Linked DNA regions of Homo sapiens: region 2 is linked to region 1. A link means that fine-mapping ties the variant in region 1 to the expression of a gene that starts in the linked region. Tissue or cell type: whole blood. Region 1 holds a variant in brackets; the other region holds the start of a gene. All regions are shown on one strand. Distances are between the middles of the regions.

What was found. PIP is the estimated chance that this variant, and not a neighbour inherited with it, causes the effect.
Region 2: it holds the start of IMPA1, and the variant in region 1 is the best candidate, but not a certain one, in a credible set for the expression of IMPA1 in whole blood (INTERVAL, PIP 0.82).

Annotation. Positions count from the first base shown.
Region 1 is chr8:81,609,502-81,612,194 of GRCh38, reverse strand. It overlaps the pseudogene IMPA1P1. Among named protein-coding and RNA genes, the nearest start is that of IMPA1, 75 kb to the left of the region's middle. The variant T/C (reference allele first, on the strand shown) is at 1,104.
Region 2 is chr8:81,684,823-81,687,515 of GRCh38, reverse strand. IMPA1 (inositol monophosphatase 1) reads left to right here and starts at 1,191. Exons shown (of 9, transcript NM_005536.4): 1 at 1,191-1,264. RefSeq lists an enhancer at 945-1,445.

The sequences.
Region 1 (2,693 bases):
CTCATGTCTTTCTCACATACAAATTCATACATTTCATTACCATTATCCTAAAGTCTTAACTAACAGTTTTACAAGAATATCTTAGAATTGCTTATTCTGCATAAATTTTCTATTTAATATGTAGATACATATCTTCTTTACTTATGGAAAATTTCCTTGAGATATAATTTTAAATATTATTGCACTTCGGTTATCATTTTCTTCTTCAGAGACACCAATATGAATATTCCATCTCCTTGTGTCTTCCATTTCAGCTGCTTTCTCTCAGTCTCTTTTTCTTTTATTGCTTTTCCTGATTTTCTTTAAGTTTTCTTTTGCATCTGTGCCCTTTTGGGCACCTTGTAATTTATTCTTCATTTTGTCCCCATTTCTTTCCTGAGTTCACTTATCCTGTTTTTTTTTAAAAAAATTTTGTTTCATTTCTGCTTTCAGTCTCTATTTCAGATTTAACAATTTTTTTTCATATTCACAACCACAAGTATTTGAGGCCATTTAACTCAGATTGTATTGATGTTTCAGTTTTCTTCTGCTTCATTATTGTTTTTTATTTTAAAAGACAGAATGTTGTTATTTTCTTTTGTTGTGTTACAGCAGCAATTTAAAAAAAATTTAAGTTACGGGATACATTTGCTGAATGTTCAGGTTTGTTAACATAGGTATACATGTGCCATGGTGATTTCCTGCACCTGTCATCTAGGTTTTAAGCCCCGCATGCATTAGGTGTTTGTCCTAATGCTCTCCCTCCCCTTATCCCCCACTCCCTGACAGGCCCCAGTGTGTGATATTCCCCTCCCTTGTCCATGTGTTCTCACTGTTCACAATGTTGGTTTTCTGGAGAGACTTCAAACAAAAAGAAACCCATTTTTATTAGCAATGTCTGATGTTTTGCAGGCTTGTGGGGATGTGCTCTACTTTTTTCTATTTTGATTCATTTTGTTATCAGGGCTCCTTGGTTCAGAGCTCTGTATTTTGTCAGTTCTGCCCTTCTGTGTAGTTTCCTTTATGATATCTTTTGAGTGGTTGTGGTAGGCAGGGTTGGCTTGTCTTGCTTATCATTGATTTCTGCAGGATCCTTAATTTTTCAATCTTAGTCCCAACTTTTC[T/C]TTGAATACTTGGTCTCCAAGAGGTACCACCTCTTCTGTCTTATCTGATTCTCCTCCAAAATCACAGTTTCCCCGAGGTAGCTGGACTGTGAATTACCAAGGGCTGATCTGTGCTCAGTGTCTTTGCATTTATTGTCTCACTTATACTCGTTTCTGAGGGTGGTTTTTTCTGTGTTCCCTGTGGGTCCTTGGCTCCTCCCTGCTCTCCCTCACAAAGTCTTTTCTGCCTCTTCTCCTCCACTCCGTGTATCCACAGGCTAGGAATGCTGTGTTAGAATTAGTTTGTTTGCTCTTTCTTCTGCTTACAGGTAGTTTGAGATTTGTATTTTCCGATTCCTAGAAATGCTGAAGGAATAGGTCTTGTGTGTTTTATTTGTCCTCCTTTTTGATTTTATTTAATTTTATTTTTCAGGTGGGTAATGGGGAGTTTCAAAATCAGCATGCCACTATTCCTTTCTAAACCTCAGAGTCCTTCTGTAATCAGTTTCATAAATGAAGAAATTAAAAGCAAATATCTATCCTTACTTTTATGTTTACATTTTCAAGAAAAGCTAGAGTTTTGAAGTCTTTAATATAGTTATGCTATATTAAATAGAATTTCTGACCTTTATTGTAGTTGTTTGCATTAAAAATCATAAATTTTGTTATTCAACAAAATCTGTTAAGTTTTGAATAACAGATATTTTACTGCCTACTGTTTCTACCTTTTTTCCTTTTGAAAATATCATCACTGAGTTATAAGAGTCTTAAACCTGATCAAAGATCATCTAATAATCCAGCCTTTTTTTGTAGGTGAGTCGACTGAGGCTCAGAGAGGTGATGTGGTTGCCTTAGATCGAACAGCTGGGTGGAAATATGACTAGAATCCTGGCTCCCAGATCATTTATCTTTCTCCAATATTGGACTTCTCTTAGGAGTCGGGACCTTAAAAATATAGTTTGGCCATGTACAAACTAATTTTATACTATACATCTTTGTTCTATATAGTAATGAGTAAAGCAAAAGAGAGAGAGCCTCTGTCAAATAGCTACAGAACCTCCCAGAATGATGTCCTTGAGGGAAGGGCAATAAACTTATTGCTACAGTGTGCTGTCTTGAAGCAAGGACTGTAACCATGGGCTATAAAATGGTTATGTTAGTCATAAAAGAGCTGCAAGAGGTTTACAATTTTAACCTTTAATTTTGCTGTTGGATAAAGTAAAAACTAATTTTTACTTCAGGATTTTTTCAGAAGTGTAACCAGGGAAATATTACCAAGGAGAAGTTCTGACATTGATTTAAGATCTTTTGCATTCAGCTGCTTCTTTAGTTTAGCAATGTGATTTCAGAGTTACTTATACAAAACAATGAAACTAAAGGGAGTCATAATCTGAATGAATGCTTTAAACAAGCAGAAACAGTCTAATAGGTTCCTGACTAGGAACAAATATTTTTAAGACAACAATTATTGTGGCTCAATTTCCTTTAATTTTTCAAAATTTAATTAGATGAAATGTACCTGGTATATATTTTCTGGCATCATCTTTTGAGAATAATTTTGTCATAAACATAGCTACTTTTTATTATGTATCTTTTATATGGCAGGCACTC
Region 2 (2,693 bases), 75 kb before region 1:
CACCTTGCCTGGCCTAGAGTAGTATTTTTATGTTTTATGGCTGGCTTTATAAAAAAGGGGTCCTGATTTCTGGGACCTGATTTGGGAAAGAGGAATTCTAGCTTCTATGACTAGTCTGGGGAAGAATGTGGGACCAGAGACAGGAGACCAAAAGGAGTCAGAGGAAAATTTTTCCTTCTAAGGCTGCTTCTGAGGCCTTCATTGTGGGGTATCATTTTCTGAACCCCAAAACTTTGAACTCAGTGTGTTTCACTCTCTGCTCTTGCTGTGTGACCTGAGGACAAATCACTTAACTACTCTGAGCCTCAGTTTCCTCATCTGTCTGACAAAGCTAATCATACCTTTTTCAAGAAACTGTTAAAACTTTAAGGAAAATAATGCATATAAAAACACATTTCGGCCAGGCGTGGTGGCTCATGCCTGTAATCTTTGGGAGGCCGAGGTAGGCGGATCACTTGAGTCCAGGAGTTTGAGACCAGCCTGAGCAACATGGTGAAACCCCGTCTCTACAAGATACAAAAATTAGCCGGGCGTTGTGGCAGGCGTCTGTAATCCCAGCTACTCAGGAGGCTGAGGCATGAGAATCGCTTGAATCCAAGAGGCGGACGTTGCAGTGAGCCGAGATCGCGCCATTGCACTTCAGCCCGGGCGACAAAAGTGAAATTCCGTCTCAAAAAAACAAAACAATAAAACCCCACACAATTGCTTGAAGCATAGTAAGTCCTCAATAAATAGTATGTAAGTAAATTATCAAGAATTGGGCAGTTGGTTCTGGTTATCAGTTTATTTTTTTTTAATCTAGTATAGGTTTACCAGCTTTAGGTTAGCACCTAAAAGCTGCATAATCGGAATCATATCTGCAATCTGGGTTTTGTCAAAATAGTACTATAGAATAAATGGGAGAAAGAAGAAAGCAAGCTAAATGGGAAACCGTGAATGAATGGAGGACGAAAGAAGAAAAAGGCAAAGTAAAGAGAGAAGTAATGTTTAAAAACTGAGAGATGAAAAGACAAGCAGGAGAAAAGAACCAGAAGCTAGAATGAAGAGGCAGTATCCCATGCTCCAGCGCGGGTCAGGACCCGGCCCGGCCTGGCAGAGGCTCGCAGGGCGCAGCTCGGGGCGGGGCCCAGCAAAGCAACCACGCCCCCTCAGGAATGGAGTTTTTAAGGGCGGAACTTCCTGTTGCGAGTAGCCCCTCTACCTCCGGAAGAGACGAGTGCGGTAACACCGTTCACAGAGCTAGCCGGACGTCCTCCGACTCAAGGTGAGACCGTTATTTTCCTCACCGCACCCTCCGGGTTCAGCGGGCGCTGTGGGTTTCCAGGGAGGCCCCTTCCCTCCTCAGGAGCGGGCGCGAGCGCCGTGCGCGGTCGGCGCCTAGGGTGGAGGCAGCCTCTGGGTGACCCCTGCCTGCTGCGTTATCCGGAGCTGCCCTGGGCGACCGGGAACAGTTCCGGCATTGGAGTAGCGGTTCGCTCACGCGACCTCACTTAACCTCTGTGGCGGCTTCTGTGGAATAATTGCCCCTTTTTATGTCCCCAACTCCGAAAAGCTCCTAGAAACTTGGTGCATCCCCAGGCCCAGGTAGTCACTCTAAGTGATGGGGCAGCGCCCAGGTCCTGTGCTGCCCGCAGTCGCGGTGCTGGGACAGGTGGCAAAAAGGAAGGTGGCCTGGCTCCTACGCTGGAAGGCTGTGACCAGGACAGAAACAGCAGGAAACAGTTCAGGTGTTTATGGCTTTGGGAAAATGAAAGTGAGTAAACTACGGACCCTGCCCATCAATAAATGTACTGTGATTTATATATATATAACTATTCATATATTATATATAACTATATATAAAAATATATATAAAATGTACTTATATACTTTATATATAGTACATAAATATACTTATGTATAGTATATATACTTATATATAGTACATAAATATACTTCTGTATACTTATATATAGTACATAAATATACTTACGTATATATACTTATATATAGTACAGAAATATACTTACGTATATATACTTATATATAGTACAGAAATATACTTAGGTATATATACTTATATATAGTACAGAAATATACTTAGGTATACATACTTATATATAGTACCTAAATATACTTAGGTATATATACTTATATATAGTACATAAATATACTTACATATATACTTACATATAGTATATAAATATACTATATGTATAGTACATAAATATACTATGTATAGTATATATACTATATATACTATATATAGTATCTATACTTATGTATAGTATATATAGTATCTAAATATACTTATGTATAGTATATATAGTATCTAAATATACTTATGTATAGTATATATAGTATCTAAATATACTTATGTATAGTATATATACTATATATAGTATCTAAATATACTTAATGTATACTATATATAGTATCTAAATATACTTATTTATAGTATATATATCTAAATATACTTATGTATAGTATATATACTATATATAGTATCTAAATATACTTACGTATAGTATATATAGTATCTAAATATACTTATGTATAGTATATATACTATACATAGTATCTAAATATACTTATGTATAGTATATATACTATACATAGTATCTAAATATACTTATGTATAGTATATATACTATACATAGTATCTAAATATACTTATGTATAGTATATATACTACACATAGATACTATGTATAG